Regions from separate parts of the Homo sapiens genome. Here regions 1 and 3 are each linked to region 2. Evidence: fine-mapped expression QTL. A gene starts in region 2. Each other region holds a variant in brackets. All regions are shown on one strand. Distances are between the middles of the regions.

Region 1 (2,752 bases), 53 kb after region 2:
TAGTTAAGGGCAAAGAGTTTTTGAGATTTGACCCAACTGTTAATCCTAGGAGCCAGGTTCCTTCTGGAAAACACACCACTGAAGCCTTTCTTCTGGAATTCAGTTGGCTGCTCTAGGAGCATCAGGTGTCATGCTGCGGCCAGCAGGAAGTGGGTAAGTGCCCAATACAGGGACCCCAGGAGTCTGCTTTGGGCACCAGAGGGCCAGCTCTGAAAGTGAGGATGAAAATGGATCATTACATTATAATAACAGTTAGGTTTGGAGATTGTAATACTCTGTTTTCACCCTGCTGATAAAGACATACCAAAGACTGGGCAATGTACAAAAGGAGGAGGTTTAATGGACTTACAGTTCCACGTGGCTAGGGAGGCCTCACAATCATGGTGCAAGGTGAAAGCCATGTCTCATATGGCAGCAGACAAGAGAAGAGAGCTTGTGCAGGGAAACACCTCTTTAAAAACTATCAGATCTTGTGAGACTTATTCACTATCACGAGAACAGCACAGGAAAGACCTGCCCCTATTGTAATTGAATAATTACCTCTCGCTGAGTCCCTGCCACAACATGTGGGAATTCAAGATGAGATTTGGGTGGGGAAACAGCCAAACCATAGCATTCTGCCCTCTCCCCTCCCAAATCTCATGTCCTCACATTTCAAAATGAATCATGCCTTCCCAACAGTCCCCCAAAGTCTTAACTCATTTCAGCATTAACTCAAAAGTCCACAGTCCAAAGTCTCATCTGAGACAAGGCAAGTCCCTTCCACTTATGAGCCTGTAAAATCAAAAGCAAATTAGTTACTTCCTAGATACAATGGGGGTACAGGCATTGAGTAAATACAGCTGTTCCAAATGAAAGAAATTGGCCAAAACAAAGGGGCTACAGGCCCCATGCAAGCCTGAAATCCAGCAGGGCAGTCAAATCTTAAAACTTCAAAATGATCTCCTTTGACTCCATGTCTCATGTCTAGGTCATGCTGATGCAAGAGGTGGGCTCCCACGGACTTGGGCAGCTTCACTCTTGTGGCTTTGCAGGATACAGTTTCTCTCCTGGCTGCTTTCACAGGCTGGTGTTGAGTGTCTGCAGCTTTTCCAGGTGCACAGTGCAAGCCATCAGTGGATCTACCATTCTGGGGTGTGGAGGATGGTGGTCCTCTTCTCATAGCTCCACTAGGTGGTGCCCCAGTAGAGACTCTGTGTGGGGGCTCTGACCCCACATTTCCCTTCCATACTGCCCTAGCAGAGTTATCCATGAGGGCCCCACTCCTGCAGCAAACTTCTGCCTGGGCATCCAGGCATTT[T/C]CATACATCCTCTGAAATCTAGGTGGAGGTTCCCAAACCTCAATTATTTTTTTAAGATGGTGTCTTGCTCTATCACCCAGCCTGGAGTGCAGTGGCATGATCTTGGCTCATTGCAACCTCCACCTTCTGGGTTCAAGTGATTCTCCAACCTCAGCCTCCCGGGTAGCTGGGATTACAGGCTTGCACCACCATGTCCAGCTAACTTTTGTATTTTTAGTAGAAACAGGTTTTCTCCATGTTGGCCAGGCTGGTCTCGAACTCCTGACCTCAACACCTTGGCCTCCCAAAGTGTTGGGATTATAGGTGTGAGCCACCATGCCTGGCCCCAAACCTCAATTCTTGACTTCTGTGCACTCGCAGGCTCAACACCACATGGAAGCTCTCAAGGCTTGGGGCTTCCACCCTCTGAAGCAATAGCCTGAGCTGTACTTTGGCCCCTTTTAGTCACAGCTGGAGTGGTTGGGGCACAGGGCACTAAGTCCCTAGGCTGCACATAGCAGAGGGACCCAGGGCCTGGCCCACAAAACCATTTTTTCCTTCTAGCCCTCCAGGCCTGTGATGGGAAGGGCTGATGCAAAAGTCTCTGAAACACCCTGGAAGCATTTTCCCCATTGTCTTGGTGATTAACATTTGGCTTCTTGTTACTTATGCAAATTTCTGCAGCCAGCTTGAATTTCTCCTCAGAAAAGGGAATTTTCTTTTCTATCACATTGACAGGCTGCAAATTTTTCTAATTTTTATGCTCTGTTTCCCTTTTAAAACTGAAGGCCTTTAATAGCACCCAAGTCATATCTTGAATGCTTTGCTATTTAGAAATTTCTTCCACCAGATACCTTAAATCATCTCTCTCAAATTCAAAGTTCCACAAATCTCTAGGGCAGGGGCAAAATGCTGCCAGTCTCTTTGCTAAAACATAACAAGAGTCACCTTTGCTCCAGTTCCCAACAAGTTCCTCATCTCCATCTGAGACCACCTCAGTCTGGATTTCATTGTCCATATAATAATTACCAGCATTTGGATCAAAGCAATTCAACAAGTCTCTAGGGAGTTTCAAACTTTCCCACATTTTCCTGTCCTCTTCTGAGCCCTTCAAAATTTGGAATCCAACCTCTGCCTTTTACCCAGTTCCAAAGTCACTTCCACATTGTTCTGTGCAGGAAACGCGTGAAGGGAGAAGAAAAGATACACACACAATACCTTTACGGGTAAACAACCTTTATCCCATGTAAATGGCAATGCAGATATAATAAGCAAGTGATATAATAATAAGCAAATGATATCATAAGCAGATTGATACAATAAGCAAATTGCAATGGGAAGGGGAGAAGGGAATATATATATTTACACTCACCAGATTGTGGAGGATTCACCACCAGACTGGGAAGCAACATCCTGGGCTCCAGAGTTGGCCACTCATCTGTGCACAGACAAAGAGAGGTCTCATGAAGCTTT
Region 2 (2,752 bases):
GTTATTCTAACCACCTAAACTGGCAACCAGACCTCCCTTCCCCGGCTCTTACTGCCTTTTAACAGACTCTGTAATTACTAATGGAAAACATTTTCTGCTTATTGTCTGCGCTCAGCCACTAGAACGAGAACAACAGGGCAGGGCTTACTACCGCCGTGTCCCTGGCAGATCTCAAATGCTTGCTCAGGAGGTATCTGTGGGAGTGAATCAGTCACAACTAGCCCTGTAGGGAAGCGCTGGGTGCCGCTTTCTGCCCAGCTCAGCTGGCTCCTTCTCTCACCCTTGCCCACCACTTCCATCGGCCCTTCGCTTCCTCCTTGGCTTGGCTAAGCTGATGCTTTTCCGTGGCATGCCAGTCACCTGGTCAACATCCCGCACCACCGCGAGGCACCAGCCCCCACCTGATACCCTCTGGAGCACAATTTTGGGCATCCTGCCCCGATCTGGAGACCCTCAGGGCCGGTGCCTGGGCAGCGGTGCCACAACCTCACAATGCCAGTCTGCCCAGCACTCTCACACCCAGAGGTGCAAAATCCAAACTCACCAGGCAGATCAGCGACAGGATGCTCTTTAGCCAGCCTCGGGACCGGTGGCTGGAAACCAATCAGGAGAGAAATTGACAGACACGGGCCGCAGCTCCCAGCGCCCAGCCCTGGATGGCTCTTCCCCTGGCGCCCCTGGTACGGGGCGGCCCCGAGGGCTGGTCCGGCCACTCAGTGCTAGCCCGCCTCCCAGGGAGTCCCTGCTTGTCGCCGCCGCCGCAGCTCCCTCGTCCCCCTCGACACCTGCACCCTGCCGAGACGGGCCCCTTACCCGCTTACCCGCACCCCTGCGGCCCAGCTCGGCCCTCTTACCTGGGCTCGGCGGGCAGCCGAGGGAGTCGGCCTCCCTTCCTGCTCCCGGCAGGCCCGAGGCCAAGGCCGCCGCCTCCTCCTAGAAGCCCTCCGAGGCCGCGTCCCCAGGAAACGCGGGCGGGGGGTGGGGGCTCCTGGGCTTGTCTCGACTTCGCCTCTGGGTACCGCTCGCGAAGAGCGTCCTGAAGGGGAGTCTCAGTCTGGTGCGCCGACGAGCGGGCCGGGAGCGGGCGGGGCCGGGGCGGCGGCAGCGTGGGAACGGGGCGCGTTGTGGGGGGGGCATGGAGCATGCGCGGCGCAGAGGGATGGCGGCCCGCCCCGCGCCCGCCCCACAGGGGCGTCTGGCCTGGCTCCCCACGCGCCCCGAGGCACTTCCGCTTTCTGTCTGGGCTGCTCTGAAGGCTGGGGTCGAAGTGGTCAGCGCACCGCGGCTCCTGAAGGGGACGGGAGGGACCCGCGTTGGCAGAACACCTCCCATGGGCTAGACCCCTGGGCGTTATTACGTCCATTCATTCAGTTATTCATCTCGCTGGGGTCCCCGGGACCTCTGCAGGGCAGCTAGCACCAAGTACCCCGGCCATGGTCACTCAGTAAAGGAGTGACCCAGGATGGCAAGGATCAGAGAGCGGGGAAGAGGTGAAAGGTGACTCAGGGAGCATGGTGTGGAGACACGAGGAGGGGAAAAAGGAGGTCAGGGAAGTGCAAGAAGCCAAGACCCTCTGGGTGCATCTGGCTTTCCCTCAGGTTACCGGAGGGGATCGCACCTGGAGTTTGTCATTTTCCAAAGGGTCATGCTCCACGTGGTAGAGCAGGGAGTGAAATCCAAGGTTGGTTGGGATATTGCTCTGATGACAATTGTGAGACCTTTGACAAATAGTGAAGCGTATGAAAAAGACCGTAAAAGAAAAGCAACAGGGAAAAATCAGCCACATCACATATCCCAGCCCCGGCCACTGGGAACTGAGCACGAGGCGGGAGCCTCCTTGGCCTTTGAACCAGAGTTCAGGGGTTTCTTTTCTTCAGAGACCCTGGGCCCTGGCCAGGAGCACTTAGCCCGCAGCAAGGAGCCCTCGGCAAGCCTGCGCTCCCAGAACAAAAGCCGTCCATCTGGGGCATAGGGGAAGGGCGAGGACGCTGCTCAGGGAACCTCCGGTTGCAGGGAGCAGGGCCCCCAGGGGGCCCAGTGCAGGGAGAGCTTCGGAGCCCCTTTCCCGGCGCAGAGGCAGGGAGTCTCCCGGTGGCCCTCAGCTGTGTGTCCTGGTGCCCAAGCTTGTCCCTTCACCGGGGCTCTGGCTGGGCAGGCTGGGATCTGGGCTGTTGAGATGTTGTGGGGTGACTGGTTGGTGCCCCTTGAAAGATACATCCATATCTTAACACCCAGGCACTGTGATCAGGGCCTTATATGCAAATAAAGGGTGTCTGCAGATGTCATTAAATTGAGGATGTGGAGATGAGAGCAACCCAGATGATCCAGGGGGCCCCAAATCCAAGGACAGTTTCCTTAGAAGAGACAGGAGAGAGAGACACAGAGAAGGCCATGTGGAGGCGAAGGTGGGGAGTGCCCAGGGCCCCCAGAAGCTGGAAGAGGTGGGTGGATCCACCCCCAGAGCCACCGGAGGAAGCGCCCGATTCTGGACTCCGGCCTCCAGAACTGGGAGAGTCAATTCCTGTTGGCTGAAGCCAAGCGGTTTGTGGTCATTTGCTGCGGCAGCCCAGGCCACTCCGACACGAGGGAATAGGCTGAGCCCAGAGTCCTCCTGGGCCATGGAGGCAGGGGGCGGGGGGACCTTTGCACCCGCATCATCCAGTAACCTGGTGGGGACTGGGGCGACCTTGGGAAGGCAGCTCCTGTTGTCCTTGGCTCATTTCCAGAGAGTGTGAGCGGCCAACCTGCATGG
Region 3 (2,752 bases), 130 kb before region 2:
GAACCTCCCCAAGTCGGGACGTCTGCTCCCTGCAAACCAGCTCAAGGGGTTCACTTAGATGGCTCCTAACCCCTGGAAGCCAGGCAGACAGCACCCAGCTGCCCTTGCCTAGGGATTGGTTTTCCCTGCAGTCACGTCCAGCAGTTAGCTCAGTGTGTGTGTGTTTGAGCACTGCAACCTCCACCTCCCAGGTTTAAGCGATCCTCCTGCCTCAGCCTCCCAAGTAGCTGGGACTACAGGTGTACACCACCACGCCCAGTTAATTTTTGTACTTTTAATAGAGACGGGGTTTCGCCATGTTGGCCAGGCTGGTCTCCAACTCCTGACCTCAAGTGATTCACCTGCCTTGACCTCTCAAAGTGTTGGGATTACAGGCATGAGCCACTGTGCCTGGCCCCAGTGTGTGTTTTAAAGGGACAAAGGAATGAGACGCTAGGACTCTGCGGGGCGCTTTCAGGTCATTGGTCAACCCAGGGCTGCAGCACAGGAGTGCCAGCCTGAGCCCCGGCACACAGCAGCCCTGCAAGGCCAGGCTGGGCCCCAAGTGGCCCTATCCAGGGGCTCAGGTGGTGGGCACAGTCACCCCTTCTGAGAGCTGCAGTTAGAGGAGCTTCCTGGGGGCCACATCTGCACTCCCAGGCAGTTGGGGTTGGGATCCGGGGTCCCCAGGGAGCAGGGAGGGCCCCCCCCCCGACCCTACTCAGCCAGGGGTGGGGCATTGATCAGGCCCTCTCCGCCCAGGGTTCCTGTGGGCACAGAGGGCCCTTCTTGCAGGGAGGGGAGACCCCCACGGACACAAGATGGCAGTGCGATGACCGCACAGCACAGCAGGGGAGATGGCAGAGCCTTGGGGCCGTGGGGGCCCGAAGGAAGCATGGACTCTGGACCCAGCCTGCACACAGGCCCTGGGAGGCCTCTGGAGGAGGGAGGCAGGGGGAAGTCTGGGATGAGCATTGCTGGAAGAGGAGGGCTGGGCCCCGCCAGAAGAGACAGGAGTGGGGGGAAGGTGAGGAGGAGAAGCACACTTGGAGAAAGGTGCATAGGAGTCAAGGTCAAGAGACAAGAAATAGGGGGTTGGGTGCAGGTAGAAGGCAAGTATCCTAAGCGTGTACCTGGCAGGCTGCGCCAAACAATGGGGATGGGGCGGGAGAGACGGGGAGGGCGAGCAGGGAGCCCCCTGGTCTTGCTGGTACCCTCTACCCAGCTGGCCAGCTGCTGCTCTCCCTCCAGGGCCCCCTCAGGGTTCTCTTCCTCCAGGAAGCCCTCTAGCTCTGACTCCTAAGTAGGACAGCCTGAGGGTGCTGGAGAGGAGGGCCAGGTGGGGCCTGGGAGGGGCTGAATGGTCTTGTCAATTTAAAAAAGAAAGGAGAGGCCTGGAACAGTTAGGAAGGACACACTCATTTAAGGTACAGAGAAGGTGAGCAGCCTGAGAAGGGCGGCTGGAGACTCCAGAGGAGCGTGGGTTCCCGTGGACGATGGGAGAGGGCCATTGTGTGCAAG[A/G]CATGAGGAGGCAGCCCAGGCAGGGGCAGCTGGGCTTCCCAGGACAGAGGCCTAGGGACTCCAGCCCAGCCCAGACGAGGCCCAGGGCTGCCCATCTGCCTGCGCACCCCCAGGGCACTCACTGGGGTGAGACACTGCACTGAGCCCTACAGGACTTGGTGCCACAAAGAAGAGCCGGTGCAGGGAGACACAGGCCCAGGCTGCCAGGAGGCAGGGCTCGTCGAAGCTTCTAGGCCACAGAGGGTCATCCAGCTACTCCTTTGCTGCCTCCAGGGAGCTTTGGGCTCAGGGCTGACCTTTTCCCCGGGCCCTGACTGCCCGCCCCACGCCCCCACGCCCCCACACCCCGCGCACTGGCCCCAGGGCCCTGGCTGGAGGTCACTGGCAGGAAGCAGAGCTTTCCCATGCGGGTGTGGCTCCCTACCATGTTTTGGCTGCAGGAGAGGCCAGAAGGCAAGTCCAGGCCAGAGCAAGGCTGCCCAGCCAGAAGGGGCTGTGGCAGCCATTCAATCTTGTCCATCAGGGCCTCCCTGAATAGTACTCAGGTTAGAAGGTCTGAGGACTCCGCCCGCTGCAGGGCCTGATGGTGGCAGCTCCAGCCACAGGACGAGGAATGGGCCCTCCTGGCTCGGGCTTGCCTAGCTTTGTAAGCCCCAGGGCAGGGCCACCACCCACAGTTGGGCTGCCCGGCCCTCACCTGTCCCAGCCTCCTCTGACCTCTGACCCCCACCTCCCTGGCTGCCTCCCACGCTGGCCTGGGATCCTCGGCACCTTACTGGGCACGGGCCCTGAGGGTAAGCATGAGGCTCCCCGTAGCTCCTGTCCCTCTAACGCCATTCCTGTCCAGGTAGGTATGGGATCCCGGAGCCTTTGGGGATGGTGGTCTCAGGGAAACTCCCCGTCCACGGCACTGGAGGGGCCCTTGGCCTGCCGGCTCTCAGGGGGGATATCCTCAGAAGAGGAGTCTCCACGGAGAATCAAAAGAGAGGGCCCGGCCTCCCACCCACTTGGGCTGGCTCTCCCTGAGCCCCCAGTGGCACCGGCCCGCAAAGAAAGAATGGGCAGCGTGGAAGGAGCCGCCACCAGCACCAGGGACTGGCGGCACTGCTGCGCTACCTTTCTTATCTTTCTTCTCTTCCTCCTCTCCGCCAGCTCCAAGCAGCGTGAAGATGATGCCTGTCTGGGAATTCACGCCAACGGCGGTCACCACCATTCTTCCAGAACCTTCCATGACATGAGTGCCTGGAACAGC

Alleles and levels. Positions count from the first base shown, and alleles are read on the strand shown. Sizes are in standard deviations (SD) of each study's normalised expression.
For the expression in testis of the gene that starts at base 1,086 in region 2, T is the high allele of the variant in region 1 and C is the other (moderate effect, 0.40 SD a copy in GTEx).
With allele G in place of A in region 3, the expression in putamen of the gene that starts at base 1,086 in region 2 is lower (small effect, 0.36 SD a copy in GTEx).

The links. PIP is the estimated chance that this variant, and not a neighbour inherited with it, causes the effect. A credible set is the group of variants that fine-mapping cannot tell apart.
Region 1: its variant is the best candidate, but not a certain one, in a credible set for the expression of ZFP92 in testis (GTEx, PIP 0.63).
Region 3: its variant is the best candidate, but not a certain one, in a credible set for the expression of ZFP92 in putamen (GTEx, PIP 0.81).

Annotation. Positions count from the first base shown.
Region 1 is chrX:153,357,156-153,359,907 of GRCh38, reverse strand. It overlaps LOC105373378 (a long non-coding RNA gene), which reads right to left. Exons shown (of 3, transcript NR_135656.1): 2 at 2,652-2,717; 3 at 1-209. Among named protein-coding and RNA genes, the nearest start is that of MIR12129, 23 kb to the right of the region's middle. The variant T/C (reference allele first, on the strand shown) is at 1,301.
Region 2 is chrX:153,409,806-153,412,557 of GRCh38, reverse strand. It overlaps ZFP92 (ZFP92 zinc finger protein), which reads right to left and starts at 1,086. Exons shown (of 6, transcript NM_001136273.2): 1 at 855-1,086; 2 at 545-593. It also overlaps a transcript of PNMA6E not described here. RefSeq lists silencers at 568-778, 841-980, 1,041-1,290.
Region 3 is chrX:153,543,033-153,545,784 of GRCh38, reverse strand. ATP2B3 (ATPase plasma membrane Ca2+ transporting 3) reads right to left here. Exons shown (of 22, transcript NM_001001344.3): 7 at 2,617-2,742. Among named protein-coding and RNA genes, the nearest start is that of ATP2B3, 27 kb to the right of the region's middle. RefSeq lists an enhancer at 1,061-1,913. The variant A/G (reference allele first, on the strand shown) is at 1,501.